Homo sapiens: one gene and its partner. The protein of the gene in region 1 purifies or fractionates together with the protein of each later gene. This does not show direct contact. Each region holds a gene or a part of one and is shown in the gene's direction. Other genes may lie near its edges.

What was found.
Region 2: the proteins of SUGT1 (region 1) and CEP97 purify together in Homo sapiens (affinity purification with mass spectrometry; 3 studies listed by BioGRID and IntAct, with this or other methods). This does not show direct contact.

The regions. Positions count from the first base shown.
Region 1 is NC_000013.11:52,662,748-52,666,502, forward strand, and holds part of SUGT1 (protein SGT1 homolog), read left to right. Parts: intron 1-348; coding exon 349-365; intron 366-1,287; coding exon 1,288-1,310; intron 1,311-2,889; coding exon 2,890-2,986; intron 2,987-3,755. UniProt on the Homo sapiens protein: May play a role in ubiquitination and subsequent proteasomal degradation of target proteins.
Region 2 is NC_000003.12:101,722,447-101,726,201, forward strand, and holds the start of CEP97 (centrosomal protein of 97 kDa), read left to right. Parts: upstream 1-2,167; 5' UTR 2,168-2,230; coding exon 2,231-2,273; intron 2,274-3,755. UniProt on the Homo sapiens protein: Acts as a key negative regulator of ciliogenesis in collaboration with CCP110 by capping the mother centriole thereby preventing cilia formation. Required for recruitment of CCP110 to the centrosome.

The DNA.
Region 1 (3,755 bases):
AACATCTGAAATTTTTTTGGTTTAAACAAATTTGTTTTTATCTTTATAATTTCTTTTAAATAGTATACGTTTCCTTAGATGTGGACTTCCAAAGATACACTGGTTTTTGCATAGCTTCTTATGTTGAAAGGGGGATTTGGGTGGATTTGCTTGTATGGTATATCAGTAAGAAATTACTAAGGAGTCTAAAATGAATTCAGGATGCAAAATGAAACCACTTTTCTTTAGTTGAAAGGTACGGAGAATTTGCTTGCTTAATCAGTATGTTTGTGCTATAGAAATCATACAAATAACTTTGCTTAAAAATGCACTGTTCCCTGAAAATGTTTCCTTTTTATGTTTTAATAGGCTCAGAATCTGAGGTGGTAAGTCCAAAGTTTTCATTCTTCATGTTTTTATTATTTTAAATTTCAGCTACCAAATATATTTGAGACAAGACTCAGGATGAGCTGTCTGATATTTAAATATTAAGCAATTCCATTTAAGTGCTGGTTCCTCTAGGCACTGAAATAAAATCATTTTTTGATAAATATAGAAGTTTCCAGTCATGAAAATTATTGGCCTATTTTAATGAATTTAGTGTGTGGTTAAAGTTGATTTCGTGTGTTTTAATATGGTCATGATGATCATTTATCTTTTCGTTACTAAAACCTTATTGCATTTATTTAGGTTCAACAGTTTGAATCACTTGTAGGGCTTTTTATGATAGGCTAAGACAAAAGTTAAAGAAAATTGGAAATTGACAGGGTCTTGCTCTGTCATGCAGGCTGGAGTGCAGTGGTGCCATCATAGTGCACTTGAGCTTCAAACTCCTGGGCTCAAGCAATCTTCCCACCTCAGCCTTCCAAGTAGCTGGGACTACAGATGTACACCACCAAGCCTGGCTAATTACTCTGTTTCTTTAAAACGATTTTTAAAACAATGTTATTTTAGTTTAGGAAGTTGCTGAATCTTAGAACTGGCCATTTTATATAAGCAACCTTTTCTAATCATGCCTTTAGAAGTTTTCTGTTATTTAAAGTTCTGTTATTTTAGAGCAAAAATCTTTTATGAAATTCAATCTAAGATTTTTTAAATGCTGAGCATTCTAATTTTTTTCCGAAAACTAGTGGTATTTAACAATTACAGTTACTATGTCTTTGAAGAAAATTTTCATGTAGTTATTTTATATCAAAATAACTGCAGTGTTGGGTAAATTAATAATACATGCATTTTAATAATACAGTTGCTAAACTGACTTGTAAAAATCTTTCTCTTTCAACTTACCAAAATCAATCTGCATCCCAGTGGACTCATCAGTCAAAAATCAAGTGAGTGTTTCTTTTTCATAAAACAATGCATGATAAATATGCCTAAAGAGGAAGAAACCCTGTAGTTTAATAGTAAGCAAATTCTTACCATGTGATTTTTAAGTTTTTGTTTGTTTTCTAAAATTGTGTAATAGCTTTATGTAAAGCCAATTTTAAGGCTGTTTAAGGATTAATATTTGTACTTCAGTTAAATTCAAATCATTTCTCATCTTTAAAGTTGCTTCACTTGGTTTCATATTATGTTACCTTTCCATATGTTAAGGAGAGTCTCTTCCAGTTAAGTTTATGTTACTACACAGGTAAACAAGTTAGTAGTAGATCTAACAGAATTGTAACTTAACCTGCCTTTTATATTTGGAGCAAATTTTTCATAGGAACATTCTGTATGCGTTGAAAGTTAATATTGCTGAGGGCAGCAATTATAATAATGAATAAGCAACTAGCAAGTCTTTGACTTTTAATTATTCATTAGCCTGTGTACAGCTTGTATTCTTAGGACCGTAACAGAAACACAAGCCGTTGATCTGGAGCTTTGCATCCTTACTGAATTGCAAAGGGAAACCGAGACTCTTAAAGTTCATTTCTTTAATCAAGGTGGTTTTGGATATAATTACCTAAAATGGCCTGGAAAAGTTAAAAACCATCTATTCATGGTAGTTGTGGGGAGATACAGGATGAAACTCCAAGTACCTAGTAGATAAGGAACTTTGACTTGCCCTGGTGGCAGCAGCAGGGGTAGGGCACATAACCATGAAATAATAATTAAGGTGTTCAGAGCATAAAATAATCCCACATCTAACTTAATATACGTGTACCGGACACTGTGCTTGGTCCTAGGGATATAATAGCGACAGGATAAACAGCTCTGCCCTCAGAGAGCTTTTAATCTAGTCTAATTTGAAAGTGAGGATTCCTACGTTTCTAGAGCTTTCAGTACAAAAGATGCACATAATTAGAATCTAGACCCATTAGTCTTTCCATGTATCTTGAAATTGAAGGAAAGTGTTGTATATGATGTTGTGCCTGACACAGTTAAACTTCATATGATTTTAATTTTAGTTCATTTGCCCCTGTTTTGTGTGCTCAAGTCTATCTGCTTCCAACATCAGTTTTGAGAGCTTGGAGTGTTGACTCAGGCTTATTGCTTCACCTTTCTGAGCTTAAGTTTTATCATCTGTAAAATAGGGATTTAAGTGTTTATCTGTAGTATTTGGATGAAATGAGAGTATAAAAACTCTATTGATGGCATATAAATATTAGCTTGTTTAAAATAAATGACATCTTTAATATTTATATTAGTTTAAGCACAACAGTGCTAGAGATGAGTCAGAACCCAGAAAATCATGCAAGTATTTAAGTCTACTGGAAAGGTGTGAGCATCATTTACCTTACCATTTTTTTCCATTAGTACAGAGCATAAAAAACTAGTTATATAAAGTTGTTTCTGTGAATCAGTAGTTGCTTTGCTGTTTTCTTCCTCCAGGTGGGGCTCTTGTTGTTTATCAGACTAGTTTTTGTTTTGACAATAGCTTTAAAAAAATTAGAAGAGTTACCTAAGTTTCTTTTTTTTTTTTAATAGGTATGACTGGTATCAAACAGAATCTCAAGTAGTCATTACACTTATGATCAAGAATGTTCAGAAGAATGATGTAAATGTGGAATTTTCAGAAAAAGAGGTCAGTAGACTGAATCATTTTTCAATGTTGATTACTATTATTTGCAAATTTAGTATATTGCAGAATAATCGATAACGGTTTATCAGATAAATGCTATTTCTTCCTGAGATGATTTGGAAAATGTTGAATAAAATCTGAAGCCATTGCTTTGAGGTAAGAATATGTATGTTGGTAAATTATAGCTGGATGTGCATTTTTTTCTTTAGATTTGAAATTTAAAGCAGAATTTGGTTATATTAGTAAGATAATGTGCTTTGGTTATACTTGTGTGGTGTACTTCATGAAAAAGATCTAGTTAGTTTTGTGATCACACATGTCTTAGAATTGACTAGCCATGTTAAATGAGTATGACTTTTTTTGTTGTTGTTTTTTGAGACAGAGTCTCGCTCTTGCGTAGGCTGGAGTGCAGTGGCGCAATTTCGGCTCACTGCAGCCTCCTCCTCCTGGGTTCAAACAATTCTCCTGCCTCAGCCTCCTGAGTAGTTGGGACTACAGGCACATGCCACCGTGCCTGGCTAATTTTTGTAGAAACGGGGTTTCACCATGTTGGCCAGGCTGTTGTCGAATTCCTGACCTCAAGTGATCTACCCATCTCAGCCTCCCAAAGTGCTGGGATTAGAGGCATGCACCACCGTGCCCAGCCTCTTGAGTATGACTTTTAACAACTTGATTTCTTACCATTTAGTAGAGAACCTTATAATAGATTATTTAAAAGAGGTAGTGATAGAACTGTATGTTTTGCACATGGATCACTTTTTGTTATATATCA
Region 2 (3,755 bases), on another chromosome or scaffold:
ATGATCAGACTTTGCAGATTGCTGTTTCAGAAAGAGGGGAGTTCAGAATAAAGGTTGCAAGAGGAAGTGGGAGAGCTGGTAGTAGAAAGCAGAAGTTTTTTGTATACTCTGTTTAGTTTCTCACTTCCTGTGAGCACAACTTCGTTACCACCTGCAGCCTGTGCTGTCTTTTCACCTTTTACTTTAGAACTAACTGTTCAGTCTACCCATCAAAAGATGGGTACATTTACTTCCTCCATCAAGTCTTCACTGAAGATTTCAGATTCTATTTCTTTCTCAATTCCCTGAAATATTAGTGAGCTCAGTCACAATCACACCGTTTAGCATATAATAGTTGCATCAAAAGAAGGCTCGGCGCCGTTGCTCACGCTTGTAATCCCAGCACTTTGCCGGGCTGAGGCAGAAGGATCACTTGAGCTCAGGAGTTCAAGGCCAGCCTGGGCAAAAAAAAATTGTCTCTAAAAAAAAAAAAAGAAAAAAGTGTGAGCCTGCTTTCTTCCAACTAGGCAATGTATTTCTTGAATTTGGAGACTATATAAAAATATATTTATATACATAATCTATATTTATATATAAATATATAACATATATAATATATAATATATAAATATATAACATATATAATATATAATATATAAATCTATAACATATATAATATATAATATATAACATATATAATATATAATATATAATATATATAACATATATAATATATAATATATAACATATATAACACATATAATATATAAATATATAACATATATAATATATAACATATAACATATATAATATATAAATATATAACATATATAATATATAATATATAAATATATAACATATATAATATATAATATATAAATATATAACATATATAATATATAATATATAAATATATAACATATATAATATATAATATATAAATATATAACATATATAATATATAAATGTATAACATATATAATATATAAATATATAACATATAACATATATATCTAAATATATAACATATATAATATATAATATCTAAATATATAACATATATAATATATAATATCTAAATATATGACATATATAATATATAATATCTAAATATATAACATATATAATATATAATATATAAATATATGACATATATAATATATCTAAATATATAACATATATAATATATAATATCTAAATATATAACATATATAATATATAATATCTAAATATATAACATATAATATATAATATCTAAATATATAACATATATAATATATAATTTATATATAATTATAATATATGCAATATCTATATAAAATATATATATTTTTGAGACATAGTTTCGCTCTTGTTGCCCAGGCTGGAGTGCAGTGGCATGATATCGGCTCACTGCAACCTCTGCCTCCCGGGTTCAAGCGATTCTCCTGCCTCAGCCTCCCGAGTACCTGGGATTACAGGCATGCGCCGCCACGCCAGGCTAATTTTTTTGTATTTTTACTACAGACGGGGTTTCTCCATGTTGGCCAGGCGGGTCTCGAATTCCCGACCTCAGGTGATCAGCCTGCGTTGACCTCCCAAAGTGCTGGGATTACAGACGTGAACCACTGCGCCCGGCCTGGAGATTATATTTTAAAGTTATTTTGAATACTCCCTGGAAAAGTTCTTGGTTCATACTTATACCCGTAAGTCAAAAGATTTGTCAAATATTCAAGAACAATCAAACAATCACTTAAAAATACTGTATAAAAGTTTCTATTTCGGCATACTTTACTTTTACTTAACTAAAATTTCAAATAAAATGTATCCACTTTTATGATCTCAACAAGATCGGTCATTCCTATAGCGGAGTTGAAAACTTTCAACTTATTCACAATTATCAAAAGAATGGAGCAGCCCCCACAGAGACTTCCAGCAATGAGTTGTAAAATGCAGTCTGCATTAAGTAGCTTCCTTACAATCATCCCGATGGTAAAAGTGTCAAATTTCGCAAACGCCTGGACAAGGAAGTGAAATGATCATCTAATAACGCAGTTGACTCATCTGTCAAATAAGCGAGTGGGCCAGGGTCCCTGAGCTCACTACCCTCAGATTCTAACTCCAGCTTCACATCATTAGGCGTAAGCAGCCAATTGGGCCGTCTGGGAGCCGTGCATCCTGGGAGTTATAGTTTCCGGCTCCCTCCTTCAGATTACAAGCTCCACAGAGCCGCGGGAGGACGGTTGCCTGGTATTATTAGCAAGCAGCAAATATGGCGGTGGCGCGCGTGGACGCGGCTTTGCCTCCCGGAGAAGGTAAGGCGATCCCTACCCCGAGTCCTAAGGTTTACTTCACGGAGCTGAATTAAATAGTGGAGAGCAGAAAACCTAGGTTTAGATGTGCAGTTCTGGACCAGTTCTTTTGATGCGGATCTGTGGTCGTCGCGGAGGCGGGCTACCCTCTGGGAGTTGTAGTTCACCTGCCGTTCCCAGCTCTCCGGCGTCGCGGTGAGGGCCGAGCGGGGGACTACAGCCCCCAGAAGCCTTCGCGCGGCCCGGCGCCCTGGCTCCCGCGCTCCCGATGCTGAGGAGGCGGTGGATTTCGGGCTGCGATGACCTTTCTTGACCATTTACTTTGAGTCATGGGTGCCTAAGCGAAATGTTTGGGATCTCCCTCTTTCGCTTCACACATCTCCCTCTCTTCTTGGTTCCTGGAACCATCAGGAAAACCTTCCCTCAGAGACCGCTGCCTAGTCTGGCTTTGAACCCTTCCTCGGAGGTGGCCAGTGGCCGTGATAAAATCTAAGGGATGATCCAGAGCCCGCAGTTCTGTACTCCTTGTTCTTGCACACGGGTCCTAGGATCGAGTTTGGTCGCTGCCCAGTAGAGCACAGGACTGTGTGGGTGCTTCTGTGGCCTGAAGATACCTACCTCTTTGGGGCGCCGGACGCGAGCTGCTTTTGTTTTGGTTACAGCTCCGAGGCTTGGCAGCAGTCAGTCCTCTAAATCGGGGACAGGGCCCAGGGGTCGAGGCCCGTCTTCATGGCTTAGACCAGGAGTGCATTTTCTGGGAGCTGTAAATTCTTGGGGGAAGAGTTGGTGGATGGTTCTCAGACCTCTCTGTCGACCCCTTGGAATTGTGTACAAAGGCTGTGCACTTTTCTGAGACAGCACACCCCTTTCATCAATTTTTCAGAGGGGCTCACGACTCCTCACATGCTAAGAGCCATTAGACAACGGGAAAACGTTGAAATCCTCCAGGAGAGCAATCTGGCATAATTATTTCCTGCAGTAGTCCTAATCTGGGTGTAAATTTGAAATTGGCCGTTTCTCTGGCCCCGCCCTCTTTGGAGATCGGCTTTTCTTAAACCACACCTCTCAAGCCCACCAGGGCTACTTAACTGTTAATAGCAGTTAACATTTACAGAGCACTTTGTATGACCCAGGCGATGTTCTCAGTCCTTTTTTTTTTTGTTTTTTTTTTTACATTATCTCATTTTCTCTGTAGAACTACATTTATAAGGCAGGTATTATCCCCACTTTACAGAGTAGAAAAGGGAGCCCAAAAGAAATCAATAATTTGCCTAATATACCACAATGGTTAATTGGTGGAGCCAGGGTTTGAACGTCTATGTTATACTAAAGTGCCTTATTGAGTGCCCGGTGGCAGGAACGGGGCTAAGTACTATTCATATGGTTTCTCTTTTAATTCTCATATCAAGCTAGGGAAATGGGTGTATTATCCTATTTTATGGGAGAATTAGTTGAACTATACTTTGATTTTCAAAATCACAGTTT